4 linked regions of the Homo sapiens genome follow. The protein of the gene in region 1 interacts with the protein of each later gene in a pairwise test. Each region holds a gene or a part of one and is shown on either strand. Other genes may lie near its edges.

What was found. The genes of interacting proteins can lie anywhere in the genome.
Region 2: the proteins of U2AF2 (region 1) and ZNF71 interact in binary tests that used the Homo sapiens proteins (3 or more experiments, as listed by UniProt).
Region 3: the proteins of U2AF2 (region 1) and ARGLU1 interact in binary tests that used the Homo sapiens proteins (3 or more experiments, as listed by UniProt).
Region 4: the proteins of U2AF2 (region 1) and SUGP1 interact in binary tests that used the Homo sapiens proteins (3 or more experiments, as listed by UniProt).

The regions. Positions count from the first base shown.
Region 1 is NC_000019.10:55,665,035-55,669,946, forward strand, and holds part of U2AF2 (splicing factor U2AF 65 kDa subunit), read left to right. Parts: intron 1-3,472; coding exon 3,473-3,552; intron 3,553-3,635; coding exon 3,636-3,758; intron 3,759-4,048; coding exon 4,049-4,147; intron 4,148-4,409; coding exon 4,410-4,658; intron 4,659-4,912. UniProt on the Homo sapiens protein: Plays a role in pre-mRNA splicing and 3'-end processing. By recruiting PRPF19 and the PRP19C/Prp19 complex/NTC/Nineteen complex to the RNA polymerase II C-terminal domain (CTD), and thereby pre-mRNA, may couple transcription to splicing.
Region 2 is NC_000019.10:56,622,144-56,624,986, reverse strand, and holds the end of ZNF71 (endothelial zinc finger protein induced by tumor necrosis factor alpha), read right to left. Parts: coding exon 2,230-2,843; 3' UTR 501-2,229; downstream 1-500. UniProt on the Homo sapiens protein: May be involved in transcriptional regulation.
Region 3 is NC_000013.11:106,565,338-106,569,389, reverse strand, and holds the start of ARGLU1 (arginine and glutamate-rich protein 1), read left to right. Parts: upstream 1-1,252; 5' UTR 1,253-1,470; coding exon 1,471-1,817; intron 1,818-4,052. UniProt on the Homo sapiens protein: Dual function regulator of gene expression; regulator of transcription and modulator of alternative splicing. General coactivator of nuclear receptor-induced gene expression, including genes activated by the glucocorticoid receptor NR3C1.
Region 4 is NC_000019.10:19,303,510-19,307,009, forward strand, and holds part of SUGP1 (SURP and G-patch domain-containing protein 1), read right to left. Parts: intron 2,568-3,500; coding exon 2,340-2,567; intron 339-2,339; coding exon 215-338; intron 1-214.

The DNA.
Region 1 (4,912 bases):
GGGTTTTGGTAAATTCAGCTAACCTTTTGGAGCCTGTAATATATGTTGACATGCTCCCAATCGACATGGACTTTTTACGTATGGGTGCGTTTCCCCGATCAAGCTGCAGAATGTCTTCCCCACGTCTCTTCCTGGTGAATCCACTGCGTTTTCATTCATTTTAAGTCCCATGAGTGGCCCGCCACTTGCTGGTGCTTAGTGTGTGTCAGGCGCTGTCCTAAGTGCCCTCCATGCACGGCAGTTCTACGACACAGGGATTGGCGCTGTCCTAAGTGCCCTCCATGGACGGCAGTTCTACGACACAGGGATTGGCGCTGTCCTAAGTGCCCTCCATGCACGGCAGTTCTACGACACAGGGATTGGCGCTGTCCTAAGTGCCCTCCATGGACGGCAGTTCTACGACACAGGGATTGGCGCTGTCCTAAGTGCCCTCCATGGACGGCAGTTCTACGACACAGGGATTGGCGCTGTCCTAAGTGCCCTCCATGGACGGCAGTTCTACGACACAGGGATTGGCGCTGTCCTAAGTGCCCTCCATGCACGGCAGTTCTACGACACAGGGATTGGCAGGTTACAACTGAGAGTCCAACGCTGGCCCACTGCCTGTTTTTTGTTTTTTTGTTGTGTTTTTTGAGACGGAGTCTTGCTGTGTTGCCCAGGCTGGAGTGCAGTGGTGTGATCTCGGCTCACTGCAACCTCCGCCTCCCAGGTTCAAGCGATTCTCCTGCCTCAGCCTCCCGAGTAGCTGGGATTACAGGCATGTGCCACCACACCTGCTAATTTTTTGTGTTTTTAGTAGAGATGGGGTTTCACCATGTTGGCCAGGCTGGTCTCAAACTCCTGACTTTGTGACCTGCCTTGGCCTCCCAAAGTGTTGGGATTATAGGCGTGAGCCACTGCTCCCGGCCACTGCCTGTTTTTGTAAGTAAAGATGGATGGCGGTGCAGCTGGCCTCACTGTGCAGCGCCTCCTTCCTGGGTAGGGACGTGTGGTGGGCCTTGGGGAATAGGAACCGTGGGTTATGGATCTAAGGTTGCTTCTCTTACCAGGCTGAGGAGCTTGACTCTTCTGAAGGTGATGGGGTGCTCTGGCAGGGGCTGAGCTGAGGGCAACCCAGTGATAGTGGCTGCCGAGCTCCTCTCAGGCGCCCCCTGCACCAAGATGGCCTGGTCACCATGGGAGGGGACATTGCTCCATCTTACAGATGAGGAAAGAGCTTCGGGACAATGGGGATCCCTGCTGGGTCTTCCCCACACAGCCTCTGCTCCAGGTGTGATGCTTTGTAGATGCAGCCGCTGCAGAGGTATGGGGCCCTGTTTCCCCGCCCAACTCTTGGAACATCCCTGCCAAGCAGGGCTTGTCCTCAGTGATGAGTGGAGGAACTCAAGACTCCGAGAAGATTCCTTTGAAGTTGTTGTCATGTAACAGCGGCTGACCCCACTGACAGTGCTCACAGTGTGTGTCTGGGCTGGGTGGGTCCTGTTGTGGGCATTGAGTCTGGCAGATGCCCGGGCCATGGGGACTGCCGTGCCTGTTCTCACGTCCTCGATTGAATCAGCACTTGGCCTGAGCTGTTCTCACACACGTGGCTCACACGATGGGCACCAGGGTTCTTCCCATTCTACAGATGAAGACACTGAGGCCCTTGGAGGCTCATATGGTACAAACAAGACTTGAACCCAAGGAGCCATGAACCCAGGGAGCCCAACTCTTGTATCCTTGGCTCTGTGTTGCTCAAGTGAGACGGGCAGAGCCAGGGCTCGCGGCTGAGCTTCCAGTGTGACCCATTCTTCCTTGGACCCAGGCAGAGCCTGCAGCCTGCCATGCTGCCTGTGGGGAGTCACAGCTGAGTGTGGGCTCTGGAGGCTGCCTTTTTCCTGCCTGTGTGTCTTTGCTCTGTGCCTCAGTTTTTGCCTTCTGTGCTGTATGTATAGCATTGCAGTAGGAGGTTGAAAGTCTTACAGGATGCCTGGCCCATGGGGTGAGTGCCCGGTGTGTGTTCCTGCTCCCGGGCTGCTGCTACTTGTCCCTGTAGCATAGGAGCTGGGTCTCCTGGGGTCTGTGTGGCCCCAGTCTGGTGGTTGGAGCTGGCTGGGTTGGTGCTTCCAGTTCTGTGGGGGCAGCGTCATCATGGGCTGGAAGGGCTTGAGTGAGTAGGTGGGAGAGGGTGTGTGGGGGCATCTCCCCTCCTTCCATGGGCACAGCGGCTCATGCTTCTGAGGCTCTTTCCCATTTCCTGTCTTACCTATTCCTTCCCAGCATCAGGATGGAGGTGGGATGGGGCCACTCACACTTGGTGTGGAGGCTGCAGAGGAAGGGGAGGCCATATGGCCTAGGTTTTGAACTTGGGAGTCAGGCTGGTTGGTTACCGGGGCCTGGCATAGCTGATATCTGACAGGACGGCGTCAAGTTACATTGGCAGAGCCTGTGGGGTCTCAGGTTGAATCATCCCACCAGCAGGCACTTGTCTGTGAGTCCAGAGTTCAGTGGATAGGGCAGGATCGAGGGCCAGTAAATTCAGCTGATAAGCCCCCACTCTGGTATGTCAGCCCTCGAAGACACTGGATCCTGCATCCCACAGTCAGCCCACAGTTCCCAGTGAGATCAGAGCAGCTAATGCTGCGGATGCTGTTCTGAGACTTCCCGGGCAGCCGCGGCTGCTCATCGTGTCGTGCCACCCCTGTGAGGGCAGTTGCACCCCTGCAGTGGCACCTGCAGTTCTGACAGGGCGTGAAGGGAAGGGACTGAGCTTTTTTTTTTTTTTCCTTTGAGATGGAGTCTCACTCTGTTGCTCAGGCTGGAGTGCAGTGGAGTGATCTCGGCTCACTGCAACCTCCGCCTCCTGGGTTCACGCCATTCTTCTGCCTCAGCCTCCTGAGTAGCTGGGACTACAGGTGCACGCTACCACAGCCCGCTAATTTTTGTGTTTTTAGAGAGACGGGGTTTCACCATGTTGGACAGGATGGTCTTATCTCTTGACCTTGTGATCTGCCCGCCTTGGCCTCCCAAAGTGCTGAGATTACAGGCGTGAGCCCCCGCGCCCGGCCGGGACTGAGCTTTAATGGGAGCCTTGCCTGGGTGGCTGTCAGAGAAGGGGTGGGGTGTGTTGTGACTCACCAGTAGGTCCCGAGCCCAGGTGACCTGCCAGCATTCCACAGCAGCAGGTAGCAGATGTGGGTGTGAACTTTGTGCCTTTGGAGCGTTCTGGAGGATGTTCTAGTTTGAGGTTCCCCTGAGGCTGGGCAGATTTGGGAGACATGGTGCGTTCTCCCCGAGGAGCCTCTGTGTGCCACTGCCCAGGACCCTCACTGGTCAGATAAGGCTGGGGTGGGGTGGGCACGTGGCGACCCCTCCCTCGTCAGATCAGGCAGGAAGTGTTCTCTTTGGCAATTGAGGAGCTCGCCGTAGACTGTCCAGGTTTTGGGAGATAACCTGGTACTGGAATTGAAGTCCTCCTCTTCTCTACCCATAGGGGTTGTGTCCACTGTGGTCCCCGACTCTGCCCACAAGCTGTTCATCGGGGGCTTACCCAACTACCTGAACGATGACCAGGTAACTTCCCTGCCTCCCTCCAGACCCGTCCCCCCACCCCGCCCCACCTCATCCCAGCCCTGATGGACTCTCGGCTACTGCAGGTCAAAGAGCTGCTGACATCCTTTGGGCCCCTCAAGGCCTTCAACCTGGTCAAGGACAGTGCCACGGGGCTCTCCAAGGGCTACGCCTTCTGTGAGTACGTGGACATCAACGTCACGGATCAGGTGAGTCCCCGGTCGCTGGCCGCTGCCGCGTCTGTCCTTCCCTGCCCTGCGCTGTTGCCAAGCCATGGTCTCCCCTCCTCAGGGGACGGGGCGGGAGGCGGCCAACCTGAGGCAGTGCCCTGTGTGTGGGCTCGTCCCTGTCCCATGGCGTTGGCTTTTTCCAGGCTCTTAATCCCCTTTGCCTTCCCCTCTTCCCCCACCAATGCCCCGGCTTGGGGGTAGGTGTCGGGCTCCTGGTCCCTGACCCCACCTCTCCCCGCACCCCCCGACCCCTCATCCTCCAAACACAGGCCATTGCGGGGCTGAACGGCATGCAGCTGGGGGATAAGAAGCTGCTGGTCCAGAGGGCGAGTGTGGGAGCCAAGAATGCCACGCTGGTGAGCCCCCCGGCACGTCATCTTCCATTGGCTTGAGGGACCCTGGGGGTGGGAGGGGCTGGCTAGTAGGGGACAAGTGTTCCTGATCTTTCTCCCAGCTTTCATGGGAAGGCATTTGGGGGGCATTCAGTGCAGTGTTGGGGAGTCGGGCTTTAGGTGTTGGAAGTGGAGAGATGGCCTTTCCCCTGGGGGGGCATGTGAGGGGCCTAGGCTTGAGCAGAGGGAGACTGGGTCTGGGCCCCCTGTGACGCCGCTGCCTCCCCTGGCCCCACAGAGCACCATCAATCAGACGCCTGTGACCCTGCAAGTGCCGGGCTTGATGAGCTCCCAGGTGCAGATGGGCGGCCACCCGACTGAGGTCCTGTGCCTCATGAACATGGTGCTGCCTGAGGAGCTGCTGGACGACGAGGAGTATGAGGAGATCGTGGAGGACGTGCGGGACGAGTGCAGCAAGTACGGGCTTGTCAAGTCCATCGAGATCCCCCGGCCTGTGGACGGCGTCGAGGTGCCCGGCTGCGGAAAGGTCAGGAGGCCTCGGGCTCAGTGCTCTCTCACCCTCTGCCCCTCCTCTTCTCCGCGCCCTCTTTCTTCCTCTCTTGCTCCCTCACCCTCTCCCCCTCCTCTTCTCCGCGCGCTCTTTCTTCCTCTCTCTCTCCTCTCGCAGCGCGTGCGTATAGGTGTATGCCATCACTGAGTGCCGCCCTCAGGCCGGGCCATGGGAGATGTTGGTGACCCTGAGGGGTTTGTGGCCCTGTGGGGGCCCAAGACCTGCAGGCG
Region 2 (2,843 bases), 960 kb from region 1:
CCCTCCACATCAGCTTGGGTTGCAGAGAAAAGAAACAGGAGGGACCTGAGAGGTGGCCCGGCTGGTTCTCTGGATGGGAGAGGGGGATGGTGGTGGTGCAGCCTCGATCCCATCTCTGCTTCACACACTGGGGAGTCCAGGAAACCAAGGCCAGGAGTCAAGTCCTGAGAAATTCAATATGTCCATCTCTAGAAGTAGTCCAGTGTAGGCAAGGAGCACGGACCTCGGAGCCCAGGTGGACCCCAGCTCACACCCTGTCCCCTCCACTTCCATGTTGTGTGCCCTCAGGAAGCTTACCTTGCCTCACTGAACCTCAGATTCCTTATCTATACGACATGCACATGAATCCCTACCTCGAGGATCTTGTGAGGGTTAAATGAGCCATTTCATCTCTCCAAAGGGCCTTAGAAGGTCTTCCCCTCCATTTTGCTGCTAAAGAGTAGTAAAATCTTGTGTACATATTAGCTAACATTTGTTGACTGTTTTAACACTCCATTCTCTGCAGTGCATACATATTCTCATTTATTCCCACAACAGATGCAACTAAAGCAATGTCTGATCAAGACTCGCTGCTGGAAACCACCACAATCCCACGTGGGAAGCCAGCCTGAGGATGATGTTAAGAAGTATGAAGGGAGAGCCAGAGCATCACAGAGAACCACAGCTATGGCTCCAATGATGAGAGCCTGAATCAAACCCACCCTGAGGCCCACTTGACTGCCAGAATTTGAAAAACGGTCCACCTTGTTTATACGTGCCCGAGTGGCTGTTTTTCTTATTTGCAGAATGTGCTTGCTGATATAATTTTTTTTCTGTATTATTTATTTGTGTACACCAGTGTCAGGGAGTGTGGAACAACTGGAAATGCCAGAACATTAGCAACCAGTAGTATCAAATAACAAAATTAAAAGTATGGCCTAAAAGGCCCCAGAGAAAGTGCACTTTGGGGAACACTCTTATGTGTAAACAGAGCTTCAGTCGGCCTTAGGAAACTCACTCGAAGTTACTGATATGGTCTGTTGGTGCTTCCCTGTATTCACATATTGGAAACTTGATCCCCAATGTAACAGTATGAAGAGGGAGGACCTTTGGGAGGTCATGAGGTCAGGGCCCTTGTGACTGGGATTAGCACCCTTATAAGGGGCCTGAGGAAGTCTGCCGTTTACAACCACGTGAAGACACACATCAAGACACAAGCACTACCTATGAAGAACATACCCCATCAGACACCAAATCTGCCAGAGCCTTGATCTTGGACTTCCCAGCATCCAGAACCATGAGTGACAAATTTCTATTGTTTATAAATTACCCAGTCTAAGGTCTTTTGTTACAGCAGCAGGAAGGGACTTAAGACAGTTGCCTTCACATTTAGCTGCAAAAATCACTATAAAAATAATCTGTGCTCAGATGTATATACTTATTGAATCCATGCATATTTCTTTCTGAATATCAAACCTGCTGCTGTTTCTTTTCCTTCTTGCCCCTCCCACAATCACTGAAGCCGATTTTGACCAGACAACTGGCCAAAACAGAAGACTGTTTAAAATAACATAGTCTCCCTTAATTAAAAGTTTTATTTTTAAAAAACGTAACAGACCACTCTAAGAAACTTTGGCATTCAAAGCAGTAGTTACTGTTATTTGCTAACTCTGAAAAAAAAATTTTTCCCCTCACAAACAACCGGCAAACTCCTGCCACTTCCTAGCTTGGTGGCTGCCAGCGTGCACTGCAGGGAAACGGTGGGTGGAGGGATAGGAAGGCCCTCACGCTCCCAACCCACGGAGAAAATGCAGATGGTGACAAGCTGCATCTGGACTCCAGGATGTATCTGACAAAGAGGGAGATGTCTCCTCCCTCCCCTCCACCAGCTCCACTTTCCCGCTGAAGAAACAGAGATGTGGAGGCAGGCGTGACCTGTCCCAGCTCTAGGACAGTTACTCAAGAGGGCTAGTCTGGAACCCTGATGTCTGTTACCAGCGGCCATGGCTCAGCTACAGTGAACCTTGAAGTGTCCCCAGATACGTCAGACACCGAGGGGCTTGCTTTCTGAGGCTCAGTAAGGAGGGGGCATGTGTGATCAGCCAGCCCCTCCACAACCCCACATTCCTGAGCTCCCCTGACCCCGAGTCCCCACCCCAGGGGAGAACTTCTCACAGCACTGCTGACAAAGCGCGCAGCCATCTGGCGTCCGTCCTGGGCACCGCCAGTGAGAGCCCTGCACAGAGGCGCTCAGGTGTGAATCCGCAGGTGGCGCGTCAGGTTCGTGTTGCGGCTGAAGGTCTTCCCGCACTCGCCGCATCGGTAGGGCTTCTCGCCCGTGTGGATCCGCTGGTGCACAGTGAGGGAGGAGTTCTTGATGAAGGACTTCCCGCACTGGCCGCACCTGTACGGCTTCTCGCCGGTGTGGATCCGCTGGTGCTCGATGAGGTAGGCGCTCTGGCTGAAGGCCTTGCCGCACTCGCCGCACACGTAGGGCTTCTCCCCGGTGTGCACGATCTGGTGCACGATGAGGGACGAGCGCCCCGTGAAGTGCTTCTTGCAGATGTAGCACTCGTAGGGCTTCTCGCCGGTGTGGATGCGCTGGTGCTGCGTGAGCGAGGAGTTCTTGCTGAAGGCCTTGCCGCACTCGCTGCACTCGAACGGCTTCACGCCGATGTGGAAGCGCTGGTGCTGGATGAGGTAGGAGCTCTGGCTGAAGGCCTTGCCGCACTCGCCGCACACGTAGGGCTTCTCGCCGGTGTGGTTCCTCTGGTGCAGGGTGAGCGAGGAGCTCTTGTTGAAGGCCTTGCCGCACTCCTTGCAGGCGTACGGCTTCTCCCCGGTGTGCGTGCGCTGGTGCTCGG
Region 3 (4,052 bases), on another chromosome or scaffold:
AACACAGACTAATACACTACTCTTCTTTGTTTCCAAGTTTTCTTGATAATTAATTATGTGATCTTCCATATAAAACTTAAAATTAATTAGTTCTAAAACACATATCCCCAAGAGAATTTGGGACTCTCATGAGAATTGCACTAATTTTGTAATTTGACTTGGGAAGAATTGACAGTATTTTTGATACTGACTACTCACCTAAGAATACAGCATGTTTTACATTTACTAGGGCCTTATTACTGCCTTTTCAGTAAAGGTTTATAATAAAGATTGTGTAACTTGTTAAAGTTTATCCCTAAGTATTTTATGGTTTCTGTTGCCATTGTGGAGGAAATATTATTTCATTTTTAATATGTTTTTGCTTATTCAAATAATTCTAATTTTTCTTCTACTTACTTAAGCTTTATTATTGCACTCAATTTTAAAATTGAGGCACCTAGATTTTCAAGGGTTCCTGTCATCTGCAAATATTAACATTGCCTTTTCCTTTTAGGTCTTAACAATGACACAGTTTGTTGTGCCACATAGGGACGAAGCTTTTCGTGGCTAGGGTTGAGGAGGGCTTGCTGGTTATGTGCAAGGGCTTTGCACAATATGATCTAGGTTCACGTCCCTGCTCTGTCACCTACTGGTTGTGTGACCCTTATTTAACCTCTGTGGACCTCAGGGTCCTCATCTCTGAAACGTGGATAATAGTAGTACTTAATTCAGAATTGTAAGAATTAAGCACTTGTTAATACATTAAAGCATTTAGAAGGCACATTAAGCCCTATAGTAAGCATTAGGTTACATTCATCAAAACCTGCTGCCTACTTACCTCCTGCAAGTCTCATAAGCACTTCAGAAAGTGTGGTGTCTCCATTCTACGAATGAGGAAACTAAGTCCAAGGCAGCAAGTGATGAGTGCAGGGTCACTTGGAGATACATTTTAGGGCTGCCCCACAAGACCAGCTCCTAGAAAATAATGCAATCAATCAACTTCTGCGAGGCCGGACTTAAATCCCACTAAAACGTGCTTAATTCATTCAACAGGCGTTGGCATCTTACCAGGGAGGAAAAAAAAAAAAAGAGTACGCCAAGGCGAAAAGGAGAGTCTCCATCTATTGCGTCTCAGGCTTCCGCCAAGACTGGCGGAAAAAAACGAGTCCGCTCCGAAGCGCTCGCCTGCCTTCGGCAAAAATCGTCAGGAGGCGGGGCCCACGCTTCGGCACGTTTCGCGCAGGGCATTGTGGGAAGGGCGGCCGGTGCAGCCGCAGCTGCCATCTTAGGGGCGCCTGGCGCTACGGGTTTCTCGTTGGAGGCGGCCTTCGTGGCAGCTGTAGACGCCGGGAAAAGGCATAAAGTCCGTTGGCCGACACCTTTCTTTCCTCCGGCCTCGGTAGAACCGCCAGCCCGCGTCCGAAGGCGGAGGCGAGGGGAACTGGCCGCGTGAGGGGCCTGAGGCGAGCGGTTAGAGCGTCTCCCGGAAGGATGGGCCGGTCTCGGAGCCGGAGCTCGTCCCGCTCCAAGCACACCAAGAGCAGCAAGCACAACAAGAAGCGCAGCCGGTCCCGGTCGCGATCCCGGGACAAGGAGCGCGTGCGGAAGCGTTCCAAATCTCGGGAAAGTAAACGGAACCGGCGGCGGGAGTCGCGGTCCCGTTCGCGCTCCACCAACACGGCCGTGTCCCGGCGCGAGCGGGACCGGGAGCGCGCCTCGTCCCCGCCCGACCGCATCGACATCTTCGGGCGCACGGTGAGCAAGCGCAGCAGCCTGGACGAGAAGCAGAAGCGAGAGGAGGAGGAGAAGAAAGCGGAGTTCGAGCGGCAGCGAAAAATGTGAGTGCCCGCGCGGGGAGGGACCGGGGCGTGCGGAGAGCAGGGCGCGGGGCGAGGGCGTGGGGCCGGGGCGGGACGGTGCGGGCCGGGAGAATGGCGGGGACGGTCCGGGGCTGGGGACCGGGCGCGGGAACGGGTCGGAGAGGCGGCGGCGGGGCGGGCAGGCTTGGCGTTTGGAAAGCTTGGGGTGGGACAGACCCAGAAGTTGTTCGGGATGGAAAATTCGAGGGCTTGAGCAGAAAGGGTTTAAGAGAAGGCGATTTTGGCGCGAGAGAGGAGTGGTGTCCCGGAAGTAGGGGTGGAGTTCGGAGTGAGGTCGGAGAGCTGCGTTGGCTTGTGAGGCCGGGAGCGAGCCGGCCTGCAGATGTGGAGGGTGGTGAGCGTTTGCTGGTCGGCTTGAGGAGGAGAGAGAAGGGAATTAACCTTTGAGATGCGAATCACAGCTGGCCAGAAGCATTCTATTGAAGCTCAAATTTGGGACAGGACTTAACTAATCTCGGGAATCATACACTTTAGGTGGTCCGCCAGAAAAATGCATTTTCACTTTAGTGTATTCCTGTTGTTAAGGTGTTGGGATTGCTTTTTTCCCCTTGAGCCTACACCCTCACCCCTTCCTTGAGATGTTAAAAAAAAAAAGCATAGACCTTAAGTGTACAGTGCGATGAGTTTTTTGACCTTTGAATTCACCTGTGTAATCACCATCCCAAAGCCTACCGCTTTTTTAACTTGCTTTCTATTCCTGTAGCAAACACGTGCAGTTTTGTTGTTTCCCTTACACTGTGCTTCTTCAGAAGACACTTGAAGGGTTGATTTTATTTTGGCGTTGCTCCCATGAAGGATATTTAGTGAAAACTAGAGTTAGAGTGTGTTTCCGAAAATGTCAGCTCTCAAGTATTTCTGGCTATGAAAGTAGATGTGGATAAATAATCCCAAACTAAAGGAATTTTTGGGTTTTAAAATTTAGGGATTTGTTGTGTGTTTTGCTTTATGATCATCGTACTTTGATGCTCTGGGTATTCAGTTTCCAAAAACCGCATTGAAAAGTAGATTTGAACAGTCCTACTAACTCCCTATTGAACCAGCCGTACTTGGTCAGTTCTTCAGTGAATATTTAGAAAGTGCTCATGAAGCAAGAACGTTACTGAATTTATGATTTTCTCGAGGCGAGTATATGTGTGCTGAATTGACTGCGTGGTTTGTAGTTTTCTGTAGTTGGGTTTGTGTTAGGTAGATTTTCCAGCACACACACACAGCTTGTTTCTAAAACCAAAGTTACTAAAAGGTAGGACTGGAGCACTAATATTACAGAGGAAGCTGTACCTGGAGCTGTTTTGCTTCCAACACTCCTTTAAAACACATGCAACACTCATTTTTCCTGTACTTAGAACTGTCAGTGATACATATGAAAACAAAGTTCAAGTAATCGTTTCAAATTAAACCTTGATTTTGTAGAATACAACTTTTGGGTCTGCAACAAGGCCCTTAGCTGTAAAGATCTCAAATAGCTATCAACAGATGGATGTATGAAAAGTTACCTAAGACATTGCTGAGATAATTTCTACATGTGAAAACAAAGGAGACCTCCAAAGAGTAATAACTTGCCTTTCACTAGAAAGCTAAGATATGTAGGAAAAATGAAAAGAAACTTGGTATGCAAAGAATAAATAGAAGCATTTAGCAGGTTTCGCATGTATAGCAGACAAGAAATTCAGGAATGAAATACGGCAAATAGAGGAGCTATATGGTTCTCTGGTTTGAGAGAAGACACAAACTGCCAATAGTATTTAGGAGGGAGAAGGGACCAGGACTAGCAGCCACCTGTACTCTAAATTCCTGGGTGCCGTACAATAGGCATTTTATTTAATATATTCTAATGTCTTGGAAACAATGCAAAAGAAACAATGGAAAGACTTAAGTGTTGGAGCTTTGGCAGTGTAAGGAAACAGTTTGCAGTCTACATATCCTGTTGGTTATTTTATTCATTTAACTGATGTTTATTGAGCATTTAATAAGTGCCAGGCACTGTGCTAGGTACTGTTAATATAAAGATGATTGGCCCTTCTCCAAGAGCTTGATCTAGCTCAAAGACAGATCATTAAATAGGCAATAATACAGTGTAGTAAATTTAGTGACAGTAATATAAACTGTATAAAGGAAGTATCCTGTGTGGGTGGAGGATATAAGAATATGACAATGTCAGGCAAGGTATAGGACATATGTGGAGCACAGAAAAGA
Region 4 (3,500 bases), about 36 Mb from region 1:
TGCAGCTTCTATCGTGCAAAAAAAGGCAGGCTGGCGAGCAGGGACCCGAAAGCAAGTCTCCGTGCCACATGGGAGCCACTTGTCACTTCTGGTGAGAATCAGAAAACGCTTGGAACAGCATCCGGCCCACACTAGCAAGCACCCAGCCCCACACGTGCGACTGTGCAGCAAACGCATTCAACAGCACAGCCTTCCCTTCCCCGGAGATACTCACGCAAATGCTGGGTTATCCTTGTAGTCCTCCATAGCTACTTTTTCTAACTCGGGGCCTCCTTCTGCCACAAAGCGGGCCAATTTCTCTATCACTTTCCGAGTCTCGGCTCCCTCTGGGGGTGAAACTTTAAGGAGGCTGTCAGTACTGGGGTTCAACTCACACACCCCACAGTCAATAGGCACACTCTCTCTATGGACCACAACGACAGAGGGGGTGGGGGGAGAAGAGTGTGAGATGCAGGAGGCTGTCGGGCGTCCCGAGTCCAGGCACAAAACACCATGACGAGGGGGGAGTCGGTCTCACTGTCTTGGTGAGACACACTAGGTGGGAGAGAAGTGTGTGAGGCTGTGGTGAGCTCCAGGCTGGAAGCTAGCAGAAAATATATCCAGCTTCCCCTGGTTTTGGTGGGGGAAATGCTTAATTCTTTTCTTTCTTTACCAGTTTTCAGCATAATACATCGGTTCCCTTTCATCCTTCAAAGATGACACGTTCTTTTTTAAAAAATACCATTATGAGCTCTGATTTAAACACACTGGGTGGGTTTCGATCCATGGCAACTAGTGTCATCATAGAAGCTCTGCGGCCGGTGGAACCTCTTCAAGCTGGCTCCTGAGGGCTCTGGACATGGCCCCAGGAGTCTCTGATGGCCTCCTTGCCATCTGCCAGGACAGGCGCTCCAAGATCATCTCATACACTTCCTGCCCAGACCCAGAGCCAGCCACTTCTCCAAGAAGTCGGTTTCCATGAGAAACTGCATCTCCAGACCAGCATCTGGGAGCTAGGGATGCTCAATGCCACAGGCTTAATCATTATTTCGGGGCCTTTTCAGTGAACAGAGCTATAAAGATATATTTTTATATACGGATTAGCCTCCCCACTGAGCCATGTGGAACTTGCTTTTGCATTTTTCCCTTGGCCTGTTTCTGAGGCTGTGAGTTTGTCAGCTACTACACAGACTGCAGTCCTTGTAGGAGATGCACAAGAGAAATTTCTCGCTGCCAGCAAGTGCCTGGCAACTGGGCAACATGCCAGACCTGTGGCTAATCTTATTCCCCTTGTTGCTTGGGCTGCTGGGAATGGGGGAGAGGTGGGGAGTGTGTAGCCCAACGAGGGCCCCTGTGAGGTCCCGAGAGCATTCCGTGACTGTCTTTCACCCTAGGTCGCCCTCCTGCCATGGGCCCAGCAACAATCCTGACCTGGTTGCTGTTTACAGGAACAGGTGCGTTTCTGAGGCCATGCAGACAGTGGGTCATAATGGGCTTCAAGGGCCCCGAGATGGCCAATACCCCTTGTAATGCAGCAGTTCCCAACAGGGTACCCTTGGAGCTGCTGGGGCACCCCTTTAAGGAAAGGACACACGCCAGCTCCATTCTAATGGCCCGGGGGCCAAGCTGGCCTCTGATCCGCTCGGACACACAGCCAGAAGCAAGGGATCTCAAGGCTGTCATGGCACAACTCCACAGTCGCTTCAGTCTGTGCTGTCAGGGTGATGTGACCTCACCGGCTAGCCCTTCACACAGTTCAGGTGTCACAGGGACTCGTCCTGAATGTGGACAGGGCTGGACTTGCTGGCAATGCTGTCACCACAGCCACCCCCCTTTGCCCTCCTACACTGGGCGGTCTGGACAAGCTCACCCGTGACCAGTGACCGTCCTTTCCCAGGGATAGAAGAGAGCACCCTCCAACCTGCAGCTCATACCTCTGGCCTAAACTCAGGGGACAGGTAACCCATGGTGAGGGGCAGTGCTTTGGGGCCTCAAGGGCTCAGCGGAAGAGCCTTAGAAGCTCCTCCTAGAAGGGATGTGAGGATGCCCTTTTGGAGCAAATGCGAGAAGGGCGTGCGCCCCTGCCTTGGCTGGGATGAGCCGCTGTGTGAGTGGAAGATGGATCCCGCTGCTCCCAAGATGAAGCCCACGCGCTGATGCCCAGCAACACCCCAGCCCCGCCCCTCACCCTCCTTTGCTCTCCTCACCTCAGAGGGCCTGAGGCTCAGCTCAGAGGTCTGGTGGCTGCAACTCAGCCGAAAGCACCCATGCCCCTGGCAGCACTTGCCCTGCCCACCACAGATCCCACCTGCTAGAGCACGGGCACTGGTGGTGGGGGAGCAGCAGCTCCCACAACTTACCTTTGATCTCCAGCCACTGCTCATAGTCCTCCTCCTCGTCCTCGTCAGGGGACTGGAAGACACTCGGGCGGTGCGCCACGGGCAGCTGCTTGGCGTGGGAGTAGCTCTTCACAGGGCCCGGCAGGCTGGCCAGCCCCAGGCCTGTCCGCCTGCTGATGAGCAGGGACCTCTTCCCAGCGCTGGGGGTGGGTGTGCTGGGAGGGGCGCTGGGCGCACTGGTCGGGGCGTCTGGTATAGAAGGAAGGATATGCGCACTCGGGATCTGCAGGGCACCTCTCCCGGCTTCCGACCTAACCTAGGTGCTGTGGGCCCCGGGGGAGCTGGGTCCTTGACTTCCAGAACTCAGGGGCTCAGAGGAGGCCACCCTGATTTTACAGATGGGGACAGTGAGGCAAAGAGCAAAAGGACTCGTTGTGGTCCCCCAGCCAGAAAAGCAGCAGCCTGGGGCTCTGAAGTGGGCCGCTGTGGCTGGAGGCATCTCGGTCGCGCTGCACCCACAGACTGGGGACAGTTCTGGGGACAGAACGTCAGTTCTGCCGGGTAAGACCCGAGTCCCCGAATCCCAGTTTACAACCATTCCCTTGGAGGTCTGTGGCCAGGCTGACTGGCCAGGGGCCAGCCTACTGGGTGTTCTCAGCCTGACACCTGATGGGGAAGGGACTCAAACCAGCCTTCCTCATTCTAGGATGAATTTGGCCTTGGGTTAACTTTTCTTAGCTGTTCCCTGGGAAACCTGACAGAGGTCGAAGACCAGCTGTCTCACCAGCAACAATGGGCTCTGGTCGGTAAACCCCAAAATCAGAGACATGGGCAGAAGCTCCACGGGTGACGATTTACCCACCTGGCATATCACACTGCACACCTGTAGGCGACCAACCTACAGACAGGGGTCCCATTCCTTGCACAGGCATTGCTGCCCACTGGAGAAGGCCGGGAATCCCCTGGGGCACTGACAAGGGGGCCAGGTGAGGACCTGGAGACCAGCCATTCTAGCCCACACTTTGGTGTCCAGAGGACCTACAGTGCAGAAGCACCCACAGCAAGGCAGGGGATGGGGCAAGGCTGGTGTGTGACAGCTTCAGGAAGAGCCCTGAGTCTGGTGGGGAGCAGCATCATGAAATTGGCCAGCTCACCACCCTGAGAGCAGGACTAGGGCCCCCG